4 linked regions of the Homo sapiens genome follow. The protein of the gene in region 2 purifies or fractionates together with the protein of the main gene of each other region. This does not show direct contact. Each region holds a gene or a part of one and is shown on either strand. Other genes may lie near its edges.

The links. Proteins that work in one complex are often made in the same cells at the same time.
Region 1: the proteins of TPM4 (region 2) and LANCL2 purify together in Homo sapiens (affinity purification with mass spectrometry; one large-scale study listed by BioGRID and IntAct). This does not show direct contact.
Region 3: the proteins of TPM4 (region 2) and CAP1 fractionate together in Homo sapiens (co-fractionation; one large-scale study listed by BioGRID). This does not show direct contact.
Region 4: the proteins of TPM4 (region 2) and COX5A fractionate together in Homo sapiens (co-fractionation; one large-scale study listed by BioGRID). This does not show direct contact.

Annotation. Positions count from the first base shown.
Region 1 is NC_000007.14:55,399,608-55,403,515, reverse strand, and holds part of LANCL2 (lanC-like protein 2), read right to left. Parts: intron 3,560-3,908; coding exon 3,412-3,559; intron 2,343-3,411; coding exon 2,196-2,342; intron 1-2,195. UniProt on the Homo sapiens protein: Necessary for abscisic acid (ABA) binding on the cell membrane and activation of the ABA signaling pathway in granulocytes.
Region 2 is NC_000019.10:16,100,261-16,103,676, reverse strand, and holds the end of TPM4 (tropomyosin alpha-4 chain), read right to left. Parts: intron 2,414-3,416; coding exon 2,331-2,413; 3' UTR 675-2,330; downstream 1-674. UniProt on the Homo sapiens protein: Binds to actin filaments in muscle and non-muscle cells. Plays a central role, in association with the troponin complex, in the calcium dependent regulation of vertebrate striated muscle contraction.
Region 3 is NC_000001.11:40,061,000-40,064,907, reverse strand, and holds part of CAP1 (adenylyl cyclase-associated protein 1), read right to left. Parts: intron 3,174-3,908; coding exon 3,096-3,173; intron 682-3,095; coding exon 538-681; intron 435-537; coding exon 349-434; intron 1-348. UniProt on the Homo sapiens protein: Directly regulates filament dynamics and has been implicated in a number of complex developmental and morphological processes, including mRNA localization and the establishment of cell polarity.
Region 4 is NC_000015.10:74,920,895-74,924,802, forward strand, and holds part of COX5A (cytochrome c oxidase subunit 5A, mitochondrial precursor), read right to left. Parts: intron 2,877-3,908; coding exon 2,763-2,876; 3' UTR 2,754-2,762; intron 1-2,753. UniProt on the Homo sapiens protein: Component of the cytochrome c oxidase, the last enzyme in the mitochondrial electron transport chain which drives oxidative phosphorylation.

The DNA.
Region 1 (3,908 bases), on a different chromosome or scaffold from region 2:
CTTTAAGACTCCATACCGAAAGAAAATTGGAAAGGCTCCTCCTCTCCCTCTCCCTCCTCTCCCTCTCCCTCTCCCTCTCTTTCCACGGTCTCCCCCTGATGCCGAGCCAAAGCTGGACTGTACTGCTGCCATCTCGGCTCACTGCAACCTCCCTGCCTGATTCTCCTGCCTCAGCCTGCCGAGTGCCTGCGATTGCAGGCGCGCGCCGCCATGCCTGACTGGTTTTCGTATTTTTTTGGTGGAGACGGGGTTTCGCTGTGTTGGCCAGGCTGGTCTCCAGCTCCTAACCGCGAGTGATCCGCCAGCCTCGGCCTCCCGAGGTGCCGGGATGGCAGACGGAGTCGCGTTCACTCACTCAGTGTTCAATGGTGCCCAGGCTGGAGTGCAGTGGCGTGATCTCGGCTCGCTACAACCTCCACCTCCCAGCTGCCTGCCTTGGCCCCCCAAAGTGCCGAGATTGCAGCCTCTGCCCGGCCGCCACCCCGTCTGGGAAGTGAGGAGCGTCTCTGCCTGGCCGCCCATCGTCTGGGATGTGAGGAGCCTCTCTGCCTGGCTGCCCAGTCTGGAAAGTGAGGAGCATCTCTGCCCAGCCGCCATCCCATCTAGGAAGTGAGGAGCGTCTCTGCCAGGCCGCCCATCGTCTGAGATGTGGGGAGCGCCTCTGCCCTGCCGCCCCGTCTGGGATGTGAGGAGCGTCTCTGCCCGGCCGCCCCGTCTGAGAAGTGAGGAGACCCTCCGCCCGGCAACCGCCCCGTCTGAGAAGTGAGGAGCGTCTCCGCCCGGCAGCCACCCCGTCTGGGAGGGAGGTGGGGGTCAGCCCCCCGCCCGGCCAGCCGCCCCGTCCGGAAGGGAGGTGGGGGGGTTAGCCCCCCGCCCAGCCAGCCGCCCCATCCGGGAGGGAGGTGGGGGGGTCATCCCCCGCCTGGCCAGCCGCCCCGTCCGGGAAGGATGTGGGGGGGTCAGCCCCCCGCCCGGCAAGCCGCCCCATCCGGGAGGTGGGGGGCGCCTCTGCCCGGCCGCCCCTACTGGGAGGAGAGGAGCCCCTCTGCCCGGCCAGCCGCCCCGTCCGGGAGGGAGGTGGTGGGGTCAGCCCCCCGCCCGGCCAGCCGCCCCGTCCGGGAGGTGAGGGGCGCCTCTGCCTGGCCGCCCCTACTGGGAAGTAAGGAGCCCCTCTGCCCGGCCAGCCGCCCCGTCCGGGGAGGGAGGCGGGGAGGTCAGCCCCCCGCCCGGCCAGCCGCCCCGTCCGGGAGGGAGGCGGGGGGGTCAGCCCCCCGCCCGGCCAGCCGCCCCGTCCGGGAGGTGAGGGGCGCCTCTGCCTGGCCGCCCCTACTGGGAAGTGAGGAGCCCCTCTGCCCGGCCAGCCGCCCCGTCCGGGAGGTGAGGGGCGCCTCTGCCCGGCCGCCCCTACTGGGAAGTGAGGAGCCCCTCTGCCCGGCCACCACCCCGTCTGGGAGGTGTACTCAACAGCTCATTGAGAACGGGCCATGATGACAATGGCGGTTTTGTGGAATAGAAAGGGGGGAAAGGTGGGGAAAAGATTGAGAAATCGGATGGTTGCCATGTCTGTGTAGAAAGAGGTAGACATGGGAGACTTTTCATTTTGTTCTGTACTAAGAAAAATTCTTCTGCCTTGGGATCCTGTTGATCTGTGACCTTACCCCCAACCCTGTGCTCTCTGAAACATGTGCTGTGTCCACTCAGGGTTAAATGGATTAAGGGTGGTGCAAGATGTGCTTTGTTAAACAAGATGCTTGAAGGCAGCATGCTCGTTAAGAGTCATCACCACTCCCTAATCTCAAGTACCCAGGGACACAAACACTGCAGAGGGCCGCAGGGTCCTCTGCCTAGGAAAACCAGAGACCTTTGTTCACTTATCTGCTGACCTTCCCTCCACTACTGTCCTGTGACCCTGCCAAATCCCCCTCTGCGAGAAACACCCAAGAATGATCAAAAAAAAAAAAAAAAGAAAATTGGAAAAAAAAAAAAAAAAAAAAAAAAAAGACTCCATACCAAATGTACTCAGGAACTCACTGGACTCTTAGAAATCCACTGCCTGTGGTTTATGTGGCAGAGTTACGCATCAGCGATTCAAAGTAGGGTATTTCAATCCAGACTGCTTTGTTTATATGCAGGATTCATTTCCCATTTCATGTTTGATCAAATATACTGTAGTGTGTAAGAGTATTCTTACCTACCTGCATTAACATATAGTAAATTCCAGCCATGCCATGGGCTGCTCCAACGTACTGCTTCCGGTGCCACTGGTACAACAGCGGGCAGCGCTCCGTTTTTCTTTCTTCCCTTGACAAAGTCTTACCCGATTCAATAATAGCATTGACTACCTACAGAGATAACAAGACAGCATAAATCTAAAACTGTATATGTACCCTGTTGTAGTCTAATTAACAGTATGTCATATATATATGACATATATAGAGAGAGAGGCAGAAGCCTTAATCTAAAAGTCTTTAAGCAGTTAGCAGCTAATATAGTTATATTTATTTTATAAATTAATAAATGCAGGCAAAAAGAAATCAGGAGCCAATGTCAGAGTAGGAAAAGATACTGTCTAAGAAATAAAAAATTCTTTGCATAAAAAGTCAACGAAAAATCTAGAAAAACTTCTTATAAAACTGTTTTGGATTTCTTAGTTGCTTCGTAGCTGCAGTATTTTTCCCAAAAGAGCAGCACATACACCTATCAGGAAAGGCTGGAGGAACTGGCTTTATTTATAAAAGGCTAATGATATGAGGTCTGCTGTGGCATGAAGGATTTCAGTTAGATCAACAGAATATCATGTCTGGGATGACTGTTTCCTCACGTCTATCTCCTCTCATCCTTTTTGGGAAAGTATTCCAAGTTTTAGCTGGGCATCTGGCTCCCTAGTTAGAGACAGCTGAACACAGACACTTGATGAAGTTCTGGCACTGGGATGGGAGCAGAAGTAAAGAGGGCAACTTGGAGACTGAGTCCCTAACAAGGAAGCTGCGTTGCCTCCACCTCCTCTTTTCCCTTCATAGGCTGAGGGGCTAAACTAGCCTTGGTCCTGCAAATAAGGGTATGCCCCTAGGATAAGGCAGAATGAGACAGAAGAAGCTGGTCCCCACTCATACCAGCCTGAAATGCTTACCAGCTGAGACATCTCACGAAAGATAAATAAACATTCTAACTTTCTGAAGCTGCTGCTGTTTAGCTCCAGTAAAAACTGATAAATTAATACAAGATGAAAGAGAGTACAGATTTTTTTTGTTAATGTTCCTAGAAAAAAGCAGGGACTATTTCTTACTTTTGATGAGTTGCTTTAAAAAAGTAATGCTACCTAGAAGTAAAGTCCAGCTGTTAATACAACTCAATGCTAGCAAATAGGTTTGAATGGTAGAGACGCCCATAGTTACCCATACCCCATAGTACCTCTTTAATAGCTGACTCACACACGGTGCCTGGACCTATCTCTGTGTTCAGGTACAGTAAGGCATACAGATAACCTGCCCGTCCATAAAGCAGCTCATCAGGAAGGTCTGATTCTTGGCAGACAACCGATCTCTGGAGCTGCAAAAGTCTAACCAATAAGAAAAATTAATTTTTTCCCAGTGGAAGTCTAAAGTACTTCTTCCTGAAACACTAACCCTGTTGCTTTAGGAATTACCTATTATTTATTTTACATTTAAAACAATTATTTTTAAAAATACTCCCAAATCCAGAACACAACAAAAACGTCTCCAGTTTACTAGTCCCCTTTTGAATGTCAAAATTAAAAACAAAACATCTTTCTGTTAATTTCTACCTTTACATCTATTTTAAACCATAAAATTTTATTTTGAAATCCAGAAGTAAAAGAAAGTGATTTAAAATTTAAATAAAAATGGTACTGCAGGCCGGGCACGGTGGCTCACGCCTATAATCCCAGC
Region 2 (3,416 bases):
GTTTGTGTGTGTGTGTTTGAGACAGAGTCCCGCTCTGTCACCGGGGCTGGAGTGCAGTGGCGTGATCTCGGCTCACTGCAACCTCCGCCTCCCGGGTAGCTGGGATTATAGGTGTGCACCACCATGCCCAGCTCATTTTTGTGTTTTTAGTAGAGATGGGGTTTCACAATGTTGGCCAGGCTGGTCCTGAACTCCTGGCCCTAAGCGGTCCGCCAGCCTCGGCCTCCCAAAGTGCTGGGATTACAGGTGTAATTTGGCCACTGTACCTGGCCAAATTTTTGTTATTGTTTGTAGACGGGGTCTCACTATGGTGCCCATGCTGGTCTGCTTTCCTTTGTATGTGTAACTCAGCCTTAGCTAGGCAGATCTTCCTAACTCAGGCAACAGAGATGATTTTCCCTGCTTTTATCTCTTAAAATCCTACTCATTCTTCACAGCCTGGCTTAGGCAGCGTAGGGGATAAGGAAGGCCAGGAGTTTTCGAGTGACCGAGGCTGAGTGCTCTCGCCTGCAATGAGACTGTAATATCCTTGTATCATGAAGTCACAGTATAAAGCAAATAGATAACCTTGTCTACATTCTTGGCTCTGGTTATTTTCCCTTTCCATCCCTTTAACATTTGTTGAACCAAAATGCTCTGTGTACCCCCACACATTCTAAAATTCACGCAAATTGTAGTTTATGTAAAAATTTATTTGACCAAAATGTAGAAAAAGTGATACTATTACATATGATACAGTTGCAAGAATCTAAAGTGTGGATTTTATTCCATTGCACAATTTGCTAGTGTATTTCCTGGGTAGTGTGGTGCTGAATAAATAGGAGTAGGGTGGTGGGGTGGGGTGGGTAAGGGATTCAGATAAGCCAGAAGCAGGGTGATTTTTAGTTGGAATTGTAAACTTTAGTCAGCCCCCACACGCTGCTGGGGAATGTGGAATGTTCTAGCTCTGAGATGTTAACTGAGAAAAGAGAAGTCAAACAAAGCCGATACGTGCAGCCCTGTCTACAGAATCCTTCATTATCCAGTTTAATCAGGAGTTTCTTGGTCTTTTATTAACTTGGTCCCAAAGAAGGAATTCAAGTCCTAGATAAGTAAATCCTCAATTTGCTGTTCCCTGAAGTATGGAAATGAAGTTGGGCCAGTTTTTAATCTCTGCTGCCAGAGAGGCCCTTTCTGCTAATAGATAAAAACTCTTTTGCTCAACTTAGTAATGACTTGTGGTCTTTTGGATATGGCTGACCTGAATTGGACTGAACTCCACCATATTCCTGCTGAGTGGGTCATTACTGGAATGAGACATTTGCTCTTCAGAGAACAACTTTATTTTTATTTTTTCTTGAGATGGAGTCTCACTCTGTCGACCAGGCTGGAGCGCTGTGGTGCGATATCGGCTCACTGCAGTCTCCACTTCCTGGGTTCAAGCGATCCTCCTGCCTCAGCCTCCCGAGTAGCTGGGACTACAGGCAGGCGTCACCATAATTTTTGTATTTTTAGTAGAGACATGGTTTCGCCATGTTGGCTGGGCTGGTCTCGAACTCCTGACCTCAAGTGATCTGTCCTGGCCTCCCAAAGTGTTGGGATTACAGGCGAAAGCCAACGCTCCCGGCCAGGGAACAACTTTAGAATGAAGGAAATATGCAAAAGAACATCACATCAAGGATCAATTAATTACCATCTATTAATTACTATATGTGGGTAATTATGACTATTTCCCAAGCATTCTACGTTGACTGCTTGAGAAGATGTTTGTCCTGCATGGTGGAGAGTGGAGAAGGGCCAGGATTCTTAGGTTGATCTATCTGTGGGTTATGACTTCCCACAATAGCCACCCCCGGCCCCCACCAGTCCTTTTATTGGCTCTGGATGGAAAATCCCTACCCATGTGATGGTCCCTGGTCTCTCCTATAGTTTGACCAACAGTTGACCCAAAAGGTTATGGTCTTCAGCGTTTTAATTATATCCACGACTAGATACTGGGGTCTGTATTCTTCAAAGTGTGGGGCTGCCTATTCTCCCAGGAACCAAATGGCCTCCGTCTTAAGAAAGTATGCTTACTAGGAAATACCCTGCCTACCTTAGGAATAAATGCTACTTAAGGAAAAAATAAGAGAGCTGAAAAAGCTGGTGCCATTTGAAAAAAAAAGGGAAGGAATGAGATTTAACTGGTGCTCAAAGCTTCTCCGATACAAAATATTTGGTCATGTATTCATAATTTGCTTGACATTTCCAGCAAAGCGAAGATGGCAATAACAAAAGGAACTTCTTACAAGAGAAGAGAAAGACCCACGGAGCTCCAGAGTTTCTGTTGGAACAAGACTCTTCTGTTTTGCTTATATACAGTTAAGTTCGTTTAGTGTCTGATCCAGTGTCTGATGTAAGCCCACGTTCTCTTCTTTGGCCTGGGCAAGTTTCTCTGGTGAGGATTAAGAGTATGGGGAAAGATAAATTAATAAGCGTCTTTGTTAAATGAAAGAAAAAAAAAGATTTGTTTTTTTTTCTTCTTCTTGAGACAGGGTCTCATTCTGTCACCCAGGCTGGAGTGCAGTGGCGCGATCTTGGCTCACTGCAACCTTCACCTGCCAGGCTCAAGCAATTCTCCTGCCTCAGCCTCCCGAGTAGCTGGGATTACAGACGCGTGCCACCACCACCCGGCTAATTTTTGTATTTTTAGTAGAGATGGGGTTTCACCATGTTAGCCAGGCTGGTCTCGAGCTCTTGACCTCAAGTGATCCACCCACCTTGGCCTCCTAAAGTGCTGGGATTACAGGTGTGAGCCACCATGCCCAGCACCCCCCCAAAGATTTCTAAACCTGAAACTGCCAGGGTGAAAGTCACAAGAGAGAAAGTACTTTTTTTTTGAGACAGGGTCTCACTCTGTTGTCCAGGCTGAAGTGCAGTGGCGTAATCACGAATCACCGTAGCCTTGACCTCCCTGGGCTCAGGTGATCCTCCCACCTCAGCCTCCCGCATAGCTGGGACTGCAGGTGCATGCCACCACCTGGCCAATTTTTGCATTTTTTCTAGAGACAGGGTCTCACCATGTTACCCAGGCTGGTCTTGAGCTCCTGGGCTCAAGGAACCCATCTGCTCAGCCTCCCAAAGTGCTGGGAATACAGGTGGGTTATAGCCACCATGCCTGTCCAGTACTTTGTATTTTTAATTACAGCAGAACATCACAGAATACTAAGGAACAAGCACCAAATTTGGGAGTCACAGTTGTAAGATAAAATGCAGGGCGCCCAGTTAAATTGAATTTCAGATAAACCACAAATAATATTTTAGTGTAAGTATATCCCAAATGTTGCATGAGATGTACTTATGCAAGAGATATACTTATGATTAAAAAATTATTCATTGCTTATCTGAAACTCAGATTTAAGTTGGTGTCCTGTATTTTTCCTTGTGAACTCTGGTAA
Region 3 (3,908 bases), on a different chromosome or scaffold from region 2:
TAACCAAATGGGTTTATCCTTTACCCCTTGAGAAAAAGCTGAACTTGGCTGGGCACAGTGGCTCACACCTGTAATCCCAGCACTTTGGGGAGACCAAGGCAGGAGAATCATTAGAGACCAGCCTGGGAAACAGTGAGACCTCATCTCTACGAAAAAATTAGAAAATTAGCCAGGCATGGTGGAGCGTGCCTGAAGTCCCAGCTACTTGGAGGACTGAGGTGGGAGGATTGTTTGAGCTGGGAGGTTGAGGCTGCAATGAGCTGTGATTGTGCCACTGTACTTCAGCCTGGGTGACAACGCAAGACACTGTCTCAGAAAAGAAAAAAAGAGAGAAAAGGCTGAACTTACACATCTTTGTACTCTTTGAGGACTCGGTTTGTATAAAACATGGCGGCATCATTCATTTCTTTCACATAAGGGCCAGGCTTGGGAGCCTAGAGAGAGACAAGCTGTCAGTGACTCAGGACCTCTCCAACTATATTGCCTTCCCTCTTAAAATCTATACCCACCCCCAGCCCTGGAATCTGCGCTGCTCACCATAGCCACCCAGCCCAGGGCCTGGATACTTTCGCTGACAGCTGACAGGTGATTAAACAACTTGCTGCCTCGGTTCTTCTCCCGAAAGGTTATCACTTCTTTGATCTGCTCTGAGATGGGTGCCAACAAATCGGAAAGCTTATTCTAGGAAAAGATACAAGAAAAGATTCAGGTTAACATCTTTCCACAAAGGTGTCTATGCCTTCTGATCCTGAAGGCAAGAATTCTCTATGGACTCTAGTGAGCACCCAAATAAACTGCATGAGTCCTGTCCTGATTCCTAAGGCTAAAATACTGCTCATCATCTCACTCTCCTCGTAGAGTTCCAACTCCTCAGGCTGCACCTGATGGTTCTTCATGATCAGGACCCATACTTCAGCTATACCACAGAACCTCCATTTCAGCCACCTGTCTCTTTTTTGTTCCACTCAGAGGACATACACTCAGGACATCATTCCTGTGCCTTACTCATGATGTTCTCTTTTTTTCCCATGAATCCAAATTTTCCTCATGCTTCATGAGGGCCCTCCAACCCAGCCACACCAGCCTCCTACAGCATTTGTTGTCAGCATAACCAATCTTGGCATTTTATCACTCACCAATACAAACTATTAATGGACCCATGTGAATATGTTTTACTTTCTCATTAATTCTTCAAAGACGAGCTCTTTTATCATCATGAAAGCCCCCAATGCATTGCCAGCCATATAGTAGCTGCTGTAAAGAACTGATGAATCAAATGCAATTAGGGGGCTTAGTCTGGGCATGGTGACCCACGCCTGTAATCCCAGCACTTTGGGAGGCCAAGGCAGGAGAACTGCTTGAGACCAGGAGTTCAAGACAGACTGAACAACACAGCACAACTTTGTCTCTACAAATAATAAAAAGAATTAGGGCCAGGCATGGTGGCTCACGCCTGTAATCCCAGCACTTTGGGAGGCCAAGGTGGGCAGATCGCTTGAGTCCAGGAGTTTAAGATCAGCCTGGGCAACATGGGGAAACCCCATCTCTATAAAAATACAAAAATCAGCTGGGCATGGTGGCGCATGCCTGTAGTCCCAGCTATTCAGGAGGCTGAGGTGGGAGAATCACTTGAGCCTGGGAGGTGGAGGTTTCAGTGAGCCGAGATCCTGCCACTGCACTCCAGCCTGGGCGACAGAGAGAAACTCCATCTCAGAAATAAATAAATAAATAAGTAAGTAAATAAGCAAGCCAGGCATGGTGGTGCACACTGTAGTCAAGGCTACTCAGGAGGCTGAGGTGGGAGGATCATTACACCTGGGAGGTCAAGGCTTCAGTGAGCTGTGATTGCACCACTACCCTCCAGTCTGGGTGACAAAACAACACCCTGTCTCAAAAAAAAAATTTTTTTTTAAACATAAATAAAATAAAAAACAATTAGGGGCTTAGCATTCAAGTAGGCACCTTGGCAAAATGGATGAATTTTGTTTGTGTTTGCACCCTTCCTCCAAAGCTCCATTTCCTGAACATCTCAATTCTCAGATCTTAACCATTCAGGACAGATTAAGAATTAAAATCTAATTCTACATATTAGAATTAGATGGCATCTATACACACACACACACACACACACACAATGTTTTTTGAGAGAAGGTCTTGCTCTGTCGCCCAGGCTGGAGTGCAGTGGTGTGTTCATGGCTCACTGCATCCTCAAACTTTCAGGCCCAAATCTTCCTCCCATTTCAGCCTCTCAAGTAGCTGGGACTATACGCATGCACCACCTTGCCTGGCTATTTTTATTTATTTTATTTTTTTAATTTTTAATAGAGACGAGGTCTTGCTATGTTGCCCAGGCTGGTCTCAAACTCCTGGCCTCAAGTGATCCTCCTGCCTCAGCCTCCCAAAGTGCTGGGATTACAGGAATGAGCCAGCACACTTAACCAGAATCTAATATATTTGACATTATCTTGCACTATTTTTATATTATCTAGGCATGCTGAGGGTCAAGGGTTTTAATACAGCATTTAGGACAACTTGCTTTATTATTCCTCTGTAACTAGGAAAACCAAATGCAAAAGAAGGAAACCTATATTCTTTGACTCCAAGAGAAATCTAAATTTTCTCTAATTCAACTTTTCACATCTTGCACCATAAAATTTTGAGGTGGGAGTAAAATTAAAGAGAGAGTCTCCCAACCAGTGAAGGATGAGGAGAGAAGCAATACTGTAGGAGTTTTAAGATCTCCACAGGAGCACTACTAAAGCCCATCCACAGTGAAGCAAGAGAATCATCTTTAAAGGGCTTTGGAGACACTATGATGAATGTGGACTCAGCAAAGAGGCAGGCAAGCAAAGTCCCAGGGATAACCACAGTCCTATGCAAAATGACAGAGAAAAAGCCAGTAGAGACCATTAAGTACCCAATAGTACCTTCCCATTAAGGCACTTGAAGTATGGCTCTACCTCTGGGACTTGGTATGAACATATATTATCAAAAGCCTAGTAGGTCTATTTTAAAATGTTATAATAGCTTGACATAAATCTCTCAACTCGTCCTGAGCATCAAACCAAAATGAAACCAGCTAGTAGTGAACTTACTTCTGCTGGCTGTTGACACTGAGAAGCTGTAACCAACAGAGCTCGCTCCAACTTCAAACCTGTGTGGACCATCTCCGCCTGCCAGAAAGAAGAATCAGCTATTGATGACACATTATAACTAGAGAAGTCTTGATAAGAATAACCTGAAACCTCTACTTCCATGTACTCTGATAGCAACCCAGGCACTTCATGTTATCCTCCTCATGTATTCCAGATTCCAGGGACTGAGAGCAGAATTACATACACTACTGTTCCTATTGGAACTCATCAGGGATATATATCCAGAGTTGGAAGTGAAGTTAATTGGATAATCACCTAGCTTACATGAAGTCATGTTAGCATCTTACACATGCATTGTGATACCGTGCACTGAAAAATCCTTCCTATTTCACATCAGCAAAATAAAACAAACAGCAACCAAAAAAACACCTTTCTTTTCTCAAAAATTGGAGACAGGAGTAAAGGCAAAGGCCTAAATTTCTGCTGAAAATTCTCAAGGTATTTACTCCTTTAGATTAAAGCTATCTCTCAAATGCCAGATACCATGACCCATTAATAAATAATTAAATCAATTTAGTGAGCTTAATGGAACAAAAGTATGAGTGCAGTGCACCAACTTCAAGTTATTTCCAAATAAAAAGTTAAAAAAAAAAAAAGTACAGCAGAAGTAGTATAAATATCATCTTGTGAAACTTTTATCTCAGTTACGAATATGTTCTTTCTTTCTAAGGGTCATTCGCAGTCAAAAGAATTTAAGAAACATGAGACTGTAAGCACTATTAAAATACAAAAATTCAAAGAAAGCAATCTATT
Region 4 (3,908 bases), on a different chromosome or scaffold from region 2:
TTCAACCGGGAGGCGGAGGTTGGAGTGGGCCGAGATCGCTTCATTGCACTTCAGCATGGATGACAGAGCAAGACTCTGTCTCCCAACAAAAAAAAGAAAAAAAGAAAAAAAGTTAGTATAGCTAGAATATATCCTACATAAAAAAGATCTTCTGGACCCCTTGGAATAATACTTGATAAAATGAAAACTAAAACCATCTTTTAGGAGTTCATTATAGAATATGAACCACAGGGCTGGGCGCGGTGGCTCACGCCTGTAATCCCAGCACTTTGGGAGGCCGAGGCAGGCAGATCGCGAAGTCAGGAGATTTGAGACCATCCTGGCTAACACGGTGAAACCCCGTCTCTACTAAAAATACAAAAAATTAGCCGGGCATGGTGGCGGGTGCCTGTAGTCCCAGCTACTCGGGAGGCTGAGGCAGAAGAATGGCGTGAACCTGGAAAACGGAGCTTGCAGTGAGCCGAGATCATGCCACTGCACTCCAGCCTGGGTGACAGAGCCAGACTCCGTCTCAAAAAAAAAAAAAAAAAAAGAAAAAGAATATCAATCACAGGGCCAGACGCGGTGGCTCACACCTGTAAGCCCAGCACTTTGGGAGGCTGAGGCGGGTGGATCACCTGAGGTCAGGAGTTCAAGACCAGCCTGGCCAACATGGCGAAACCCGGTCTCTACTAAAAATACAAAAATGAACCGGGCATGGTGGTGGGCACTTGTAATCCCAGCTACTAGGGAGGCTGAGGCATGAGAATTGTTTGAACCCAACAGGCAGAGGTTACAGTGAGCAGAGGTCGTGCCACTGTACTCCAGCCTGGGCGACAGAGTGAGACTCCGTCTCAAAACAACAACAAAAAACAAACAAGAGCTTCAAAAGTATAACTAGGAAAATTTCCATTCTGAACAACTAGTTTTCTTTAAGTACTCACAGAAGTCAAAACCATTGCATATATTATAAAGATGAGCTACTTCAGGGAGGTTGTGCTGGTGAGGGGGTGGACAAAGATAAAATGAAAAGACCATTGCTTTTGGCTCACACCTGAAACCCAAATAATTTGGAAGGCCAAGGTGGAAGGATCACTTGAGCCCAGGAGTTCAAGAACAGCCTGGGCAACATAGTGAGACTCTGTCTCTATAACAAAATTAAAAATAAATAAATTAAACAAAAACAAACAAAAAGACCACTCCGTTAAAGCAAGCTTTAAAACGAGATCCCACCTGGGCGTGGTGGCTCATGCCTGTAATCCCAGCACTTTGGGAGGCTGAGGCGGGTGGATCACCTGAAATCAGGAGTTCAAGACCAGCCTGGCCAACATGGTGAAACCGTCTCTACTAAAAATACAAAAATTAGCCGGGCATGGTGGTGCATGCCTGTAATCTCAGCTACTTAGGAGGCTGAGGTACAAGAATCGGCTTGAACCCGGGAGGCGGAAGTTCAGTGAGCCGAGATCATGCCATTGCACTCCAGCCTAGGTGACAGAGTGAGACTCCGTCTCAAAAAAAAAAAAAAAAATCTTAAAAGTAGATTACAAAGTTTTCAGCATTTTCTGTTCAGTTTCTCAACAGGAAGACTGAATATAAAAATTCCTTGAATTCTGAATATTTTTCTTTCTATGTATGTATGTATTTAATTAACTAAAGGAGACAGGGTCTCACTATGTTGCTCAAGCCAGTCTCAAACTCCTGATACTCCTGAACTCAAGCAATCCTTCCACCTTAGCCTCCCAAAGTGCTGAGCTTACAGGCATGAGCCATTGCTGCCAGCCAAGTTGAGTCTTTTTTTTTTTTTTTTTTTGAGACAGAGTCTCACTCTGTCACCCAGGCTGGAGTACAGTGACACAGTCTCGGCTCACTGCAACCTCTGCCTCCTGGGTTCAAGTGATTCTCCCGCCTCAGCCTCCCGAGTAGCTGGGACTACAGGCACATGCCACCACACCCAGCTAATTTTTGTATTTTTAGTAGAGACAAGGTTTCACCATGCTGGTCTCGAACTCCTGACCTTGTGATCCACCCGCCTCGGCCTCCCAAAGTCCTGGGATTACAGGCGTGAGCCACTGTGCCCAGCCCAAATAGAAATACTTTAAACACACCAAAGCAAATGTGGCAACAATAAAAGTATCTGAAAATCTGGATATGTGTACACAGACTCACTATATTATCATCTATGCTACTGTTTATGCCTAGAATATTGTATGAAGATTTTTCTTTAATTAAGGTGGCTTTTATTTGTCTTTCTACCAGTAAGAAAATAATGATGCCGGGCGCGGTGGCTCAAGCCTGTAATCCCAGCACTTTGGGAGGCCAAGGCAGGTGGATCATGAGGTCAGGGGTTTGAGACCAGCCTGGCCGACAGGATGAAATCCCGTCTTTACTAAAAATACAAAAATTAGCCAGTTGTGGTGGCATGTGGCCTGTAGTCCCAGCTACTTGGGAGGCTGAGGCTTGAATCCAGGATGCGGAGGCTGCAGCGAGCCTAGATTGCACCACTGCACTCCAGCCTGGGCAACAGAATAAGACTCCATCTCAAAAAAAAAAAGACGAAAGAAAGAAAAGAAGGAAAGAAAGAAAATAATGACAACAACTAGAAATCATTTCAGTTCTTTAAATTTACCATTACTGGTATTCTCAAAATCTCTTCATGCTCACGGCCATTACCTCTAACAAGAACACTGAAAGGTCTTACTATAGCACACTGAAATGTCATCCACCCACACCTCTCTGGATTGTTTTCCTGCCTTCTTCAGTGGTTTGTCGCTTACCCATGCGGTTTACACTTTGTCAAGGCCCAGTTCCTCCGGAGTGGAGATTCCCAGTTCATTTAAAGTTGGTCTAAGTTCCTGGATGACATAGGGGTAGATTTCCTTATGAGGTCCTGCTTTGTCCTGATGGCAAAGAGAATATTCACATTTAACTCTCTCAAAAGCCATGTCTATTAATTCATGAAATGAACTTAAAAATGCCTTTAATTACTTATGCAGAGGCAGGTAGGACAGAATAATACAGGTGATCAGCTGGGCATGGTGGCTCACACCTGTAATCCCAGCACTTTGGGAGGCTGAGGCGGGCGGATCACTTGAGGTCAGGAGTTCGAGACCAGCCTGGACAACATGGTGAAATCCCGTCTCTACTAAAAATACAAAAATCAGCCAGGTGTAGTGGCACATGCCTGTAATCTCAGCTACTCGGGAGGCTGAGGCAGGAGAATCGGCTTGAACCCGGGAAGCGGAGGTTGCAGTGAGCCAAGATCACGCCACTGCACTCCAGCCTGGGTGACAGAACAAGATTCTATCTCAAAAAACGAAACAAAACAAAACAAAACAGGTCATCTACTTTTAAGTTAACACATTTGTTCGGTAAGTAGGGCAACTTGCTGGGTGCCGTGGCTCATGCCTGTAATTCCAGCACTTTGGGAGGCCAAGGCGGGTGGATCACAAGGTCAGGAGTTCGAGACCATCCTGACCAACATGGTGAAACCCCGTCTCTACTAAAAATACAAAAATTTGCTGGGTGTGGTGGCACGCCCCTGTAATCCCAGCTACTCGGGAATGCTTGAACTAGGGAGGCGGAGGTTGCAGTGAGCTGAGATCATGACACTACACTCCAGCCTAGGGGACAGAGCGAGACTCTGTCTCAAAAAAATAATAATAATTAAATAAAAATAAAGAGGGCAACTTATATATGTACTGTTCAAGGTAGGCTTTTGAAATACCTTGAGAATAACTGCAATTGGACTAAATCCAGAACATCTTAAAGTCTAGAATTACTGGAAAAGAAGGTAGTGATGACAGAATTTTGTGAAGGCAATTAGACATGCCCAGCAGGCAACACGAATAATTAAGTTAACGGGAAAAGTTTTTTCATTTGCCTCCAATTTGAGACCTTAACTGAATTAACTACCAGTGCTGAATGGATTG